Linked DNA regions of Homo sapiens: regions 2 and 3 are each linked to region 1. Evidence: fine-mapped expression QTL. A gene starts in region 1. Each other region holds a variant in brackets. All regions are shown on one strand. Distances are between the middles of the regions. Region 1 holds the start of NUDT6 (nudix hydrolase 6). Region 2 overlaps AFG2A (AAA ATPase AFG2A). Region 3 overlaps FGF2 (fibroblast growth factor 2).

The links. PIP is the estimated chance that this variant, and not a neighbour inherited with it, causes the effect.
Region 2: its variant is the best candidate, but not a certain one, in a credible set for the expression of NUDT6 in whole blood (INTERVAL, PIP 0.54).
Region 3: its variant is the best candidate, but not a certain one, in a credible set for the expression of NUDT6 in regulatory T cells (Bossini-Castillo 2019, PIP 0.73).

What each region holds. Positions count from the first base shown.
Region 1 is chr4:122,920,507-122,925,735 of GRCh38, reverse strand. NUDT6 (nudix hydrolase 6) reads left to right here and starts at 3,139. Exons shown (of 5, transcript NM_007083.5): 1 at 3,139-3,401. The coding sequence starts at 3,164. It overlaps AFG2A (AAA ATPase AFG2A), which reads right to left and starts at 2,658. Exons shown (of 16, transcript NM_145207.3): 1 at 2,431-2,658. The coding sequence starts at 2,593. RefSeq lists enhancers at 2,297-2,666, 2,459-2,995.
Region 2 is chr4:122,974,927-122,980,155 of GRCh38, reverse strand. It overlaps AFG2A (AAA ATPase AFG2A), which reads right to left. Exons shown (of 16, transcript NM_145207.3): 10 at 770-924. Among named protein-coding and RNA genes, the nearest start is that of AFG2A, 54 kb to the right of the region's middle. The variant C/T (reference allele first, on the strand shown) is at 2,832.
Region 3 is chr4:122,857,051-122,862,279 of GRCh38, reverse strand. All of the region lies in intron 1 of FGF2 (fibroblast growth factor 2), which reads right to left. Among named protein-coding and RNA genes, the nearest start is that of FGF2, 33 kb to the right of the region's middle. The variant A/GTA (reference allele first, on the strand shown) is at 2,627.

The DNA of each region.
Region 1 (5,229 bases):
ACAATGAAAAAATGACTTAGAGTGCCAGGAGAGCCATGTGGGATCTGACCTAATTTCAAATAAGAGAATGTTTCTCAAAGGAAGTGATGTTAAGATCAGGTCTGAAAGAAGAGTAGGAACTAACTAAATGAGGAGAAGAAAAAGATAATTCTCAGCAAAGAGGACAGCATGTACAAAGTTCCTGGGCAGAAGGGGGTATGGCGCATCCTCAGGAGAGTATAGGCAGAGTGGTGGAGACATAGGGAAGCCATGTAAAGAAGGTCAAGACCACCCAGGACAATAGTGCAATAGGCTGCATCAAGATGCTGGTCATTACTCTGACAGCAGTGGGAGCCCAGAAAGGGATGAAAAGCAATGTCATGACAAGATCTTCATCTTACAAGATCATTCTGGCTGCAGAATGGAAAAGGAATAAGGGGCAAAATTGGAAGCTGGAAAATCAGTCAAAAGGCTGTTGTAGCAGTCCAGGTGAGAGATGATGGTGTCTGAAATTAAGGTAGAAACAGTGGGAATGGCATGCAGAAGAGGAATATGTAAAATATTTAGGTAATAAACATGATTTAGTGGTGGACTAGGTATGTGAGATATGGGGGGGAGAGTCATGGATGACTCTTAGGTTTCTGAATTTTGCAGCGGGAAAAACTGAACAGAGTTGAAGTTTATTTTGTTGGAGGAAATAACGGGCTCATGAAGTTAGTCCTGAAGTATCTTTGGGACACTCATGAGAAGAGTTATTGTACAGTGCTATTCAAAATATGACCCACAACGATTTGTTACTGCTTCATGACAAGTACAAAACAGGAGAATAAGTATATAGAAGCTTTTATTGAAATTTACAGAGTAATTTCACATCTGTTTAATAAAAATTTTTCCTTATTTTTCTAGAAAATCATTTTTACTGTATTTTAGAAAAGTGCTGATCTGTGACCTATTATAAATTTTAAAGTCTTCACCACAGAGAGCTTGAGAAGCATTTGGCTAAAAGGCAACCACATCAAGGCGCAAAAACAAAAGATTTACAAATATAAATCTGACACTGAAGAGACTATAGATGGGAAACTCTGGGCACTGGATGAACTTGCCAAGGAGACAGGATTTATTGAGAGGAAAAAAAAGGTTTTGGACTAAGAATTGACGAACTTCAACATTTAATGGTCAAGGGAAGAGGACGAGCCTGCAAAGAAAAATGATGAAACATCAACAAAGATGAAGAAAACCAGGCAAGTTTGACAACACATAAGAAGTTAAGTGTTTCGAGAAGGAGGGAATGGTCAACAATACCAAAAGTTGCTGTGGTCACGTAAGGTTTATCAACACGGAGATGCTCGGAGACCACACCAGGAACAGTTTCCATGGAATGATGGGGTGGAAGTCAAAGAGGAATAGGCTAGGGAGAGTATGTAAGTGGTGAGGCGGCAGAGACCACTCCATTTAAGAAGCTTGGCAATGGATAGAGAGACGGTTGCAGGAAGAAAATGTGGAGCTTTTGTTCTGATTTAAGATGGAAGAGAAATGAGCATGTTTACATGTCAATGGGAAGGATCTAGTTCAAAAACAAGTTGAACCTTCAGGACAGAACAAGTTGTCCTCTGATACCTAAGGCAGAGTGAAAATACCATGTGAACTCTAAATTGTCTTTAAGGTCTGATTAGACATAAAAGTTTTTGCCACTAGTCTGGTCCATTTTTCAAAGCTATTACACATCAAATATAAATTTTCAATTTTTAATTCAATTTATAAGACTTTTCAGTATAAATACGTTCTCCCAAATCAAAGGAGCTGTCATCTAGGAATGGCTTTTAAGTCAAACACATCTGGACTCAAATATCGGCTCTGCCACTTAGCACCTGTGTAGCCTGAATGGAATCACGTTAACTTTCCTCCCTCTATAAAACTGTCATTACTATACCCATCGGTCACGGCTTCTGTAGAAATTAGATGAGCTATATATACTGCTAACACTAGTGTGCAGTTACTAGCAGTTATTAAATATCATAACCTGCGTAGTACTGGAAGAAAATGCTATCATCACTCCTAAAGGCAGAGTGATCCACATTTTTACTGAATTGGTTATTTAGTTTTTTAGGATAAGTATCCCATGTTCGCTAGTTATGAACAATTTTGCAATTAAATGTGTCGTTAATGTTAAATGAGACAAAGCGTTTCAAGTGCAACTTAAAAATTCAAAATAATTTACAAAAGAGAAACCTTGGACACGGATAAACCATTTCAGCCTAACTTCTCCAGTGCAGGCGCGGCTACGTTTGCATGCTTCTTACATACAGAAGTCTTACACGCTTCTGTGCCGCTCTCAGACCCATGCCACGCCCAACTTTCAAAAGTCTCTGCACCCCAAGTCAGTATCACTGAGTCTCCCGCCCCTCAGGTTGCGCCCCCTCGGCCTCTAGTCTCCCACCCGGAATTCTTTACCCTTTTCTAATAAGTTGGTCACCGTCAGAGTCCCGGAGGTTGCCGCGAAGTCTGATCCAGCAGAAGGAGCCCGTGCCTCCGCACAAGAGGAAGCAGCAGAGGGCAAGGACGAACCATTTTCCGCGCTTTGGTTCAACCGCTTTCTATTCTTCTTGGAAGACATGGTCACAAGGTACCCTAGCCGAAGCAGTAGAAAAGCCGACTCAATGTGCGCGCTTCAACTGAGAGAAAAACTTCCGGGGCAGAAGTCAGCGAGGGTCCGCCCCTGCGCCGTAATCCCCTGAGTGGAGCGCAGCAGTGCACAGCGTGGTGGGAGGGACTGAGCGTTTTCAAAACCAGCAGTCTTTGAAACAGCTGTAACGGCATCTGTGAAAGAAGATAGGTTCCAGGAACGGAACTGCCACTTAGATTGTAAATTCCTGAAAAACAGGACGTTTTTGCATCTCCTCCCGGCTTCCCCATCCCTAAACCAACGTCTGTTGAATTAAACTACCAAACAAAATAAGTGAGTGGCGGTGGGGGAGGAGGTTTTCCCCGCTTAACTGGAGCGGGGCAAATTGCTGAGAAGGGCTGGTGGACCACTTCGCGGTCTCCTTGGCATAGCTCTGCAGAGTGGTAACCCCAGCTCAACTCTGAGGGTATTGATGGCACTCTTCTAAAATGTACGGCCGCGATCTCCGCTCTGGAGCGCGGAGGGGTCATTTGGGCAACGGACGAATTAAGCGGCGTGGAGATGCGGCAGCCACTGAGCTGGGGCCGCTGGCGCGCGATGCTTGCCCGAACCTACGGCCCCGGGCCTTCGGCGGGTTACCGCTGGGCCTCGGGCGCACAGGGTTACGTGCGGAATCCGCCAGTTGGAGCGTGCGATCTGCAGGGCGAGCTGGACAGATTCGGGGGCATCTCGGTGCGCCTGGCGCGGCTCGATGCGCTGGACCGCCTGGACGCTGCCGCCTTCCAGAAGGGCTTGCAGGGCAAGTGCGCCTGGGACGAAGGGCTCCCGGGGCTCCAGAGCTTTTCTAATGAAATAACCGCGGCCCCCACTCCCTAGTCGCTCTGTGCACCACTGTCGAGCCCAGAGGGAAAGGGAGAAGGCACGCGTGACCTGGACCTGTTTTCTGGAGCATTCGTGCTTAGACCTTTTGCTGGGAGGTCTCTAAGGCGGTTGGGTGAAATGGTGAAGATCCCGGACTTTGGGATCTGCAACCCTGGTTGCTGGTCCACTTTCTACTGTGCGACATTCGGAAATTGCCGTAAACCACCATTTCCTCTTCCACAGACCCCGGTGATAAGAACTCCTGGAATTACTGAGAGTTAATTTGGATAATGCACATAAAGTGCACAGCACAGTGCCTGCCACGTATTTAAAGCTCAGTAGATGTTTGTTAATATTATATTATTACATTATTAGTATCCTTTACCGAGCCTTGGTTCTGTCGGACACTTTTCCCAAGGAAAAAAACTCTTACATTCTAATACGGGTGGTGGACTGAGTGGACCAAAGAGGCTTTTCTTTTTTATTTTTAATTTTTGTGGGTCCATAGTAGGTGTGTATGTTTATGGGGTATATGAGCTATTTTGATAGAGGTATAAATGTGTAATAATTACATCAGGGTAAATGAGATACTCATCACCACAAGCATTCAACCATAATCCAGTTACTCTTAGTTATTTTTAAATGTACAGTTTGTTTTTTTTTTTTTTTTTTTTTTTGAGAGAGGGTATCATTCTGTCTCCCAGGCTAGAGTGCAGTGGTAGGATCAGGGTTCACTGCAGCCTCCAACCCCTGAGCTCAAGCAATCCTCCCACCTCAGCCTCCTGGGTAGCTAGGACTACAGGCGCGCATCTGGCTTTTTTCTATTTTTTCTAGAAACGGTGTCTCACTGTGTTGCCCAGGCTGGTCTCAGTCTCCCGGGCTCAACTGATTCTCCCGCCTTGGCCCCTCAAAGTGCTGGGATTACAGGCAGGAGCCACTGCACCCAGCCTGAATCTTTATTGAATATAGTCACCCTGTTGGGCTATCAAATACTAAACCAGAGAGGTTCAGAGTGTCACATTTGTATACAAATTGGGTCAACAGCTGTCTCAGCGAGAACTGGAGTTTTTTAGAATAACGCTTCTTTTATGATTAACCAGGGACGGTGGTGGGTGGTTTCAGTCTTCAATAAGAAAACTTTTTACTGGCTTTCAACCTTGAGCCCAATGATAAGAAAGCTTGGATGGAGGAGCCTTCACTTTGGAAGAAGTCGATTTAGTGGTGCAGCAGTTTTTCAAACGGCCTCTGAGGGTTTTATAATCTAATTGAAGGCATAGCATGCAAATTCAACTATGGAAAAATCTCTCACACTGGAAACTCAAAATAATCTTTATCCTATTGAGCAATATGGCAAGAAGCATATCTGTAAATATAATTGAGCTAGTTATTTCAATGTTTACTCATCCTCATTCCCAGACTTCTTACCTCTTCACATTATTTTCTCTCCTACTTGCTAGTAATTGCTGACAAGCCCGCTTATACTGCAACAGTGTCACTAATAGGAGAATCAATCGTTTTATCTTCCAGTGTGTGGGTAGACACAGGTGTTGTACCCACTGATACTTATCAATGACCAAACAGGTGATCAAAGCACTACCCCAGTCAGCATGACAAAGCAGAAAGCTGTGCGATTTGGAGGTGCACATTCTGGGTTTAAGTACCAGGTTCTGCCATGTGCTTAGCCAGGCATTAGGCAAATTGCCACCAAAAATATTTGCTTCTTAGCTTGCTTTTTGTGAATAACGCCAGCTCTAATTACTGGATAG
Region 2 (5,229 bases), 54 kb before region 1:
AATTTAGAAATGAGGGGAGGAATGAGGTGGGTGTGATTATAAAAGACAACATGAGGGATCTTTGTGGTGATGGAATTACTTAGTATCTGTGATGAATATGCAAACCTTTTCATGAGATAAAATTGTATAAAACTAAATAAACACATACACACAAGTAAAACTGAAAAAATATGAGTAAGATCAATGGATTGTATCAATAGGGGTATCCTGGTTTTAGTATTGTAATATAGTTTTTTGGGTGTTTTGTTTTTTGTTTTTGAGACAGGGTCTCGCTCTGTCACCCAGGCTGAAGTGCAGTGGCATAACCATGGCTCACTGCAGCCTCAACATTCCCCAGGGCTCAGATGATCCTCCCACCTCAGCTGTAGCTGGGACTACAGGTGTACACCACCACACTCAACTAATTTGTACTTTTTGTAGAGATGGGGTTTTACCATGTTAACCAGGCTGGTCTCAAACTCCTGGGCTCAAGTGATCCGCCCACCTCAGCCTCCCAAAGTGCTGGGATTGCAGCCATGAGCCACTGCACCCAGCCTGTACTTCAGTTTTGCAAAATGTTGCCACTGGAGGAAACTGGGTATAGGATACACAGAATCTCCCTACATTACTTCGTATAACTGCACTGAATTTACAGCTATCTCAATAAAACTTTCAATTAAGAAAAATATTTTTTTAAAGTTTAGCCTAGGAAGTCAGTCTCCCTGAACTCTAAATTTTTTTCAGAGTTTAATTCAAACAGTGTAGCTAGTGTGGGACATAAATGACTTACATTTGGGACATCAATTGCTATTTCCCTCATGGCACTGGGTCTGATATCATTCATTGCCTGCAAGAAATCCTTCAGAGTAATCTTCACCAGTCCAGCCACCTTGACATCAGGGAGGTTAGGCTGTTTTTTCAGGATTCTCCGCAAGGCACAGAGACCTATAAAGAGAGGAAAGTAACACAAGATTTGTCTTTTCCTTCATAAATACAGACTGAATTGATGGCTCCGGTGGCCCATCTGGAGTGGCAACAGTGAAGACACTGGCTGCAGTGGGGGAGGCGTGGCCAGGGCTGCATACTCCACGAAGCCAGTGGGAGCTGGGAACAGGCAGGAGCCCTGCTCTTTTCCAAGTTGGTGGGGTGTGAGCCCCACTCACCCAGGCACAGCTGCAGCTGCCCAGCCATGGCTGTGGACCCAGGTATCCCTCCACTCTCGAGAACCCAGGAAGCACCCCCTGCCCCAACAGGCTCCGAAGTGCCTGCTTCTACTGCCTGGCCTCTCCCCAGTCCCAGAAAAACTTTTTGCCTGCTCTGATTTCAGACCAAAGTTAAGGCTGAGCCAAGCCACTGTCATGACCCACCTAGGTGTTCATGTGCTCAAGGTGGCACTGACAGTCCAGCTCCCTTCCACCTTGGTCCCCTCCAGACTTTGGGTGCCAATGAGTATGTGAGGGAGGCTGAGGGTGGCTTGGCGCAGTCCTGCAAGCGCCCCTCAGCATGAACAGCCCCAGCACCATGGACGACATGATTGATGGCAGCAGGAGGCAGAGAGGCTCCTGGGCAGAAAGGAGTGAGTCCCTGGTGAAGCCCCACCTTTAAGCCAGGGACAGCCTGAAGCATGGAGGGCAGGCTGTCAGAGCTGGGTAGAGTCTGCAGCTGAGACCAAGAACTTATGGTGCTTTTTCTGGGCCTGCCCATGGCCACCCATGGACCAATCAGCATGCACTTCCTCCCTTCTGAAGCCCATAAAAACCCGACTCAGCCAGACTCACTGGGATGTCAGGACTACCAGCTGTGAGAAGGAGCTACCCACCCTGGGTCTCCTCACCACTAAGAGCAGGACATTCACTGGGACACCCTGCCTATGGAAAGGAGCTACCCACTCCGGGTCTCCTCTCCGCTGAGAAGTAGACACTCGTTGGGGCAACCTGCCTGCAGAAAGGAGCCACCCACTCCAGGTCTCCTCTCTGCTGAGAGCTGGACACTCATCAGGCTGACCAGCTTGAGGACAGGAGCTACTCACTCTGGGTCTCCTCTCCGCTGAGAACTGGACACTAGCTGGGATGCCAGATAGGAGCTACCCATTCTGGTCTCCTCTCCACTGAGAGCTGGACATGCACTGGGACAACCTGCCTACAGAAAGAAGCTACCCACTCTGGGTCTCCTCTCCACTGACAGCAGGACACTCATCAGGATGACCTACCTGCAGAAAGGAGCTACCCACTCCAGGTGTCCTCTCTGCGGAAAGCTAGACATTTGTGAGGATGGCCTGCCTGTGGACAGCAGCTACCCCCTCCAGGTATCCTCTCTGCTGAGAGCTGGACGCTCATCAGGACGACCTGATGGCAGAAGGACCTACCCACTTCAGGTCTCCTGAGAGCTGTTCTCTTGCTCAATGAAGCTCCTCTCTGCCTTGCTCACCCTCCAGCTGTCCACATACCTCATTCTTCCTAAAGGCTGCACAAGAACTCAGGACCTTCCAAATGGCAGGACTGAAAGAGCTGTAACACAAACAGGACTGAAACACGCCCACTGGTCACCACATTTTGGGCAATGAGAAGAAGAGGAGCTGTGGCCCTCTGGGGAGCCCAGATGCAAGGGCTGTGATCAGAGCTGTGATACCAGAGCTGTGACACTCTCTTTGGGGCTCTGCTGTTTCCAACATCTCCAAGCTTCCAGGTACCACCACGTTACCTGGTGCCCACGGTGGAAAACACTTGTGGTATGCCTGGTCCAGCCACATCCTCACACAGAGCCGGTGCCTGTGCCTGCACCTGGGGCTGTCCACTCCACTGCAGCCAGCATGCCTGGCTGTGTGCAGTGGCCGGACCTCGGGCTCACTCACA[C/T]CCCCTTCACTGCTCTGCGCCTGGCTCACCCTTGGCAGGTGTAGGATCCAGGTCAATAGCACAAGCCAAGTACAGCCTGCTGGACCAAGTGGGCAGAACAAGCCCAGTGGGCCCGAGGATATAACTCGGGCAGAGGTGCCACCGGCCACAGAGGTTTCTGGCTGGAAAAGTGACACCCTAAGGATCCTGTGACAGAATTATCACCAATAAAAATATTAAAAAACCCAAACCCCATGCAAGATTACAGCATTTAAAACATTTTGTCCTTGTAGGGGAGGGGATGAGAGGTTGGAAGAGAGGTGGAAGAATGTGAAGAATAAATGTAAAAATCCAAGCACTTAGTTTTGGCAATGAAAATATGACAAATACTTAATATGAGAAAGCATTATTTACAAATATAAAATAGAATTTACAAAACAACATCCATAAAAAAAGCCAAAAAGATTTATCAAAATAATTTGTTTGGGGAACTTCTTTTAAAAGAGTAAAATATTAAAATTAAAACATGCTTTTGCCCCTGCCCTTTTGGTAAATACATTCAAACTAGAATTACAAAGTTTTAAGGTACTGGGAAAACACCTGCAAGCAAACATTCAGGTGGCAGTTGGAAATGTGATTTTGAAATACAAGAGCGAAGCAAACTTCAGAGTGATGTGCATACATGTAAGATTTGATATTATAGCAAGGGAGAGATCTAAAAGGGGAGGCTAGTGAGGGGTCAGGGATGGAGGAATAAGTGTAGAAGGCTCAATCTTAGGAAAGCCCATCAATTGAATAGCATAAAAAGAAACGATGTTTTAAAAGGGAAAGAAAAACTAGGATGACGTAGAATAAAAGGTACTAAAGCAGCCAGGAAGATAGTCAACAAAGTCAAATTTAGAGAGATCCAAAATAAATTCAAAGATACCATGCTGACTTGAGAAGTTAGATACTAAGTTCTTTGTCTTTGCTATTTGCTTGAAATTTAAACATTGACAAGAGTGAATGTCCTCTCCATCAGGCTGTGAGATTTAGAGCCCTTTGATCTGTGACGACCTTTAGTCTAGAAGACAGTAAGTCACTATATGCTCTTTGTGTTAAGAGTGTTTAATAAAATTCCACTTTGAAGGAGTTTAATCTCAGAGATCTCTCAGAAATCCAGTCTGAATATCTAAAGTTATCCTGGAACACCAGCTAGCTCCCATGATTTTTTAACCTTTCTTGTTCAAAACACTATACCTCAATACATTTTTACTAAATTAAAATGATACCACTCCATCATTTTGTTTTCACTTATTTGAACTTTTATATATAAACAGAAGCATTAATAAAAAGAAGATACAAAACTCCACAAAACAGAGGGTTGAGTATCTTTCTCTACCAAGAAAAAGCAGTGAATAGTACAAACATACACCAAAAATAGATCCCCTGCTTCCTAAAGACAGCAAGTCACTTCTTTAGGACATCTTACAAATACCCACTTGCTTTATCTGCCTTCCAAAATGCTGAAAGATGGTTCTTCACATCTCTTGCACTTCTGCTTGAGAGTAAAATCACTGACTGCCTCTGTTCAAGACTATCTTTTAAAGGATGTTGGTATGCAGGAAAAGAAAGTGTCTCTCTCCAAAGCAAAGGATAGACATGCTTACTGTCCATTATAAAAGATTCAGGTTCTACAATTCAAGGCTCCCCTACTGTGATGCAAGCCTATAAAGGCTCAGGTGTCAGGTAGCCCTCTGTATCACTCCGTGAAAACTGAGGCTCAGGAACTGGTGCAAATGCTGCTACTCTAGCTAATTATGTTGCTGCAATATTCTTTCCTTTGACTCTTCTGCAGCCACTCACAAAATTTGTTAGAATAGAGTAAAAGTAGAGTAAAATCTCAGACCCTTTACAATTCTTGACATGTTTATGTTTGCTATGGTATGAATGTTTTTGTCTCCTCCAAAACTCATGTTAAAACTTAATCCCTAATGACACACTGATGGGAGGTGAGGCCTAATGAGAGGTGTCTCCAGCCTCATGAATGGATTAATACAGCTATAAGAAAGGCTTGCCCTTTTTCTTACCCTTCTGCTATGTGAGGACACAACGTTCCTCTCCTTTAGAGAATATGGCATTCAAGGCACCATCTTGGATGCAAAGAGACTGAGCCCAAACCTGCCAGCACCTTGATCTTGGACTTTCCAGCCTCCAGAACTGTGAGAAATAAATTTCTGTTCTTTGTAAATTACCAAGTATGTGGTATTTTGTTATAGCAGCAGAAACTGGACTAAGACGATGATAAATTGGGTCGATTTACTACTCGACATCCTCATTAGTTAAATGGAGCAGAAGCATTAAAAAATATTCAGTGATAAAGACAGTCCCTGACTTAGGATTCAACTTAAGACTTTTCAACTTTATGGCCAGGTGTGGT
Region 3 (5,229 bases), 63 kb after region 1:
GAAGCTGATATTTAGAGAGATCTGTCCCTGGTGAAAGAATATGGTTTTTGGAAACAGACAAGTCAGTGTTTCCATAAATGGTGAATACATTTACTCATTAATTCAATTAACATTTATGGGTAACAGCTATGTGCCAGGTACTGTGCTAAGCAATAGGAAGCCCAAAGGAAAATATAACATTGGTCTTTAGCCTTAAGGAACATACAGCATGGTTGAGGCGATGAGGACTGGTACACGGATAACTAAAGCTCAATACTGTAAGTGCCATGAGAAAAATATACACAGGCTACTTTGAGAGCACTCAGAGAATACATCTAACCCAGCCTGAACAGAGAGGTTTCCTGGAAGCAGTGACAAATGATTGGAGACTGAAAGAATTAGCAATAGTAAGGAAAAGAAAGAACGGGAACAAAAAGAAAGCATCTTATATAACTTCCAAAGGAGAAAGGGAGAGAAAGCCTAGCACATCTAAGGAACTTCCAGCAATTAGGTAGCATGGAGTGTAGGGGTATGTATGTGTGTGTTGTGGAAGGGGGTATGGGGGACTAAATGAGGCTGGAGATACCAGAGGCTCTGAATACTATGTTAAGGAGTTTGGTAGTGTGTAATAGCATGAAAGAATGAGAGCTTTTAATGAAACAGTGGGGACAAAGGACAGAATCCAAGGAAGCACCAACTGTGGGAGTGGACAGAAGGTAACAAATACGGGAGACATGAAGGAAGCAGGATTCACAGGGGCTATGAGGAGAAGGAAGGGAGGGAGGTAAAAAGAGGGCAAAAAGGAAGGAGAGAAGAAGGGAGGAAAGAATAAAGCAAATAGTTCAGAAATAGGTCCCAGGTTTTTCTGTCTTGGATAACTTGGAGGTGGTTGGAGCAGCAGGAGGGGAAAGTTGGCAAGAGAAGACAATGATATATGTTCCCTTCAGACACAGTGAAATTGCAATGCCTGTGGAAAATTCAGACAGAGATGTCCAGAAAGCAGTCAGCTATATGAATCCAGAGTTCAAAAAAGGAATCTATTAGAAATAAAGAGGTAATAATCAGAGCTAACAGTGGCTGCCTTGGGAGTGCAGGCTGTGCCTAATCCCTACAGGGAGATGTAAAGTGGCTGCGATCTTCTCAAAAGTGTGTAGCCAGCGCAGATTAAAGGGCAAAGGACATAATCCAAGGAAGCACCAACATTTATGGGAGAAGTATAGGATGTAGAGCAAGAAGAGCCTGGATGGAGTGGTCAGTACGAGCTAGTGCAGGAAGATACGTATATGCACACCTAATACCTACACACACACAATACTTGGAAACTAAGGTATCTAACAGTTATTATTTGCAGACAGTACCATTTTCTCCATTAAAAAATCAAGGGACTAAATGCACCATGATATTCTGGATTGGATCTCGGAACAGAAAAAGGACATTAGTGGAAAAAGCGGCAAAATCCAAATAAATCTATACTTTAGAACCAGCGTTGTAACCAGTATCAATTTCTTAGTTTTGACAAAGGTGCCACAGATATGTAAGAAGTAAGGCTGGGTGCAGTGGCTCACGCCTGTAGCCTAGCACTTCGGGAGGCCAAGGTGGGTGGATTGCTTGAAGCCAGGAATTCGAGACCAGCCTGGTCAACATGGCAAGAACCTGTCTCTACAAAAAATACAAAAAAATAGCCAGGCGTGGTGGCATATGCCTGTAATCCCAGCTACTTGGGAGGCTGAGGCACAAGAATCACTGGAGCCTGGGTGGGTGGAGGTTGCAGTGAACCATGATTGGGCCACTGCTCTTCAGCCTAGGCAACAGAGCAGGATCTTGTCTCAAAAAAAAAAAAAAAAAAAAAAAAAGTTAACCTTAGGGAAATCTAGGTGAAGGGTATAGAGGAACTTTGTAAAGTCTTTGTAAATCTTCTGTAGATCTAAAATTATTCCAAAATAAAAAGTTTCTTTTAAAGTTAGGAGAACATACAGATGAACTATTGAAAATAATTCAGCAACTTGCTTGATACAAGAATATATAAAAATTCGGTTTATTTACACCTACAACACATTATTAGAACTGTTAGTTATTAAAAAAATATTTATGATGATAACAAATAGTATCTAGGACTTTTATGGAGAAAATTTTAAAACTTTATTGAAAATCATTTTTAAAAGACTTAAAAGGGGAGCTATGCATGTTTACAGATGGGAAAACTCGATATAGGTAAGATGTCATTTCCACCCCAACCAAATAGTTTACAAATTTAATGAAACCCCACAAGAGTGGTCAGAAGTAGGAAACCAGGAGTTAGAAACCAAATGCAGATAGGATCTCAAGTGGGACCTTCAAGAAGACCTTCAGTATCAAATGGTACCAAAAATGACAGGTAATATAAAACTGAAAAGTATTCACTAGATTAACCTCAGTAACAATTTGGGAACAGTAAATGCGAACAACTCCTTCAAGAAGTTTGTGAAGTAAACCGCAGATGTTAAACTGTAGTACTCAGAGTAAATAACATGGTGTCAAATGCATGAATTTTGGAGTCAGACCTGGATTCAAAATCAGCCTTCATCTCCAAGTAACTGAGCTTACCTTCTCACCTGTACGATGGGAAACAGTTGTTATAGATCTTTTGTGTGTGTGTGTGTGTGTGTGT[A/GTA]TATACATATGTACACACCCATATATAAACTTTTAGTATATAGCACTCAAATATGTTGGCTTTGCACCCTACCTGCTTTGTTTTGAGATTCAGGAAATTATGTTTTTAGGAATCCTTGTATTTTATCAAAGATGAGAATATCTAGAAGAGGGCAAGTATGAATGTGGCTGAGGCATCTTTTTAAAGTATATTATTTATGCTTATATAATGTCTTACCATAGCGAGCCCAGTTCTTTACCTACAGAATAAATAAATTTTTAGTTTTATTTTATTTCCCAAGGGAAATACTGCAAAAAAGACTAAGACCTTATATAATTTCTCAATCTATTATCCTATTCATTCATTCAGTAATTGATATTGGTGTCTCTTATGTGTCAGGAAACTATTCTAGGATCTAGAAATACAACAGTGACAAAGACCTACAAAGTCTCCACCCTCATGGGGCTTAGTGGCAATTGCATAATTTTTCATTAGTTGGGCCAGTGTTAATATTATTTCTCATTTAAGTAATTTGAAACCCAAGCAAACTGAAACTCTCAATTTAGGGTACTAAGATAATCAGAAAGCAGTTGTCTAATACTATATTTCAAGGCTCACTATATTAGTCTATAGAGAACAAGTACTCACATAACCTGACATCTTCAGCTCAGAACACAATGCTCACATTTTAACTTCTGGCTGATTCAAAAGACCTTTTTTATTTAAAATTGGTTGATAGAGTGTGTTCGCTTTCCAATAAAATTATGTTTTGGTGTCCAAAAATAACTGAGCCAGGTTTAGTAGTCTCCTTGGATCTAAAATTCACCAGTAACTGAAAACTAAATTCCAAGGTATAACCACTGTTTTTTTTTCTTCCATCAGCCATCATCCAATCCAATGCTGAAGACCAGGCACTGAAAACCGTTTAATGCATAGATAACTGACAAAGGAGGCTAGGTAACAAAAGGAACTAATTTGGCCAGGCACGGTGGCTCACGTCTGTAACCCTAGCACTTTGGGAGGACAAGGCAGGCAGATTGCCTGAGCTCAGGAGTTCAAGACCAGCCTGGGCAACACGATGAAACCCCATCTCTATTAAAATACAAAAAACTAGCCAGGCATGATGGCATGCACCTGTAGTCCCAGCTACTCAGGAGGCTGAGGCAGGAGAATCACTTGAACCCAGGAGGCGGAAGTTGCAGTGAGCCGAGACCAGACCACTGCACTCCAGCCTGGGTGACAGATCGAGACTCTGTCTCCAAAAAGAAAACAAAGTAAAAGGAAAAAAAAAAAGGAACTCATTTGCTGAAAATGAAAAACTTTACATCTTCATACATGTATATGGAGTACCCATGGTAATAATCAGATAAATTACAAAGATCAGATACAAATATGACTAACACATTTCATATTGCCCCTCTCAGTAAACTTTCTTTTTTTACTATTTTATTTTGCATATCATCCCAGAAGCCCAAAACCACACATTCCATTCTCTTCACAATTCAACTGGCTAATTAAAGTTTATAAATAAGAACATTAGACACCCAGATAGTTCATTAAAATTCTTAGCAACTCCTCAGCTAGCAAACAAGGTTAAAATTGGGCATAATATGAAAGAAAGAAAAATTAAAGAAAGAAAGGAAGGGAGCTAGCTTAGAAATCTGTGCATTCCTTCATTACTACCCAATCAGGACATGGCTTTACGAGTCCATTAAATCTTTCTGTGTATCAACTCTTATAGCCATAAAGTAAAAATGGTTTTTATTATGAAACTTAAGATTGTAGATGATGACAAAATAATTAAAACAATTTAATTAAAAATAAGTGCAACATACAATGTCTGAAATACTAAATCTCTTGCCAAAATTTTACTTCTAAGCCATACCATTTAACTTATGTAATTTAAAAAATTTAAAGATGTACAGCTGATTTATGCCAAAGGTAGGCTGTTAGAAACAATTTCAATCCATACAAACTTACAATTTCCTCCAATATCTTATGTACTGGCTTTATTACCTCATGTTCTAAAAGAGATATGTTTGGGCTGGCTGAGCTACCAATACAAGCAACTGTAACACAATGCCCAAATAGCTGTAAATATCAGGTGACTCCTGATTCTTCTAACAGCACAGCTGCTTGTTTAAGAATGCCAATGGCTTTTATTTCTATAGTGACACCATCAGATAATTAAGTCAGATTGATGGTAAGAAAAGGAAAAGGTAGGAACTATTTAGCATCTTGTGGCATTCCAGAAGCTCCAGGCGCAATACAGGGGCAAAGAACTGCACAGCAGCAAAGATAAGCTTCAGAGATAGAGAGAAAAGGGGAGTTCAAAGTCCCAGTACTCATCAGTAAATAGTCACAAGTTGACAGGTAGAGAGGACACCTTCCCTCATCTGTTCTGTAGCTATTAGGGATTACAGACATTATCTGACTATCTGAGCATCACGGAAAGGCTAGAAATGCTCTGCCACTGAGGACACTTCTTGGCCTGGTTTGTGGAGGTATTGTAATTCAGGTGGGAAAATTCCATCCACTTTTGGCTGGGGCATTTTCTGGTAAGAATAATTACAGTACTAACACCTCAGTAATCTGGATTTCAGGACCCCACACTGACTCCTGGC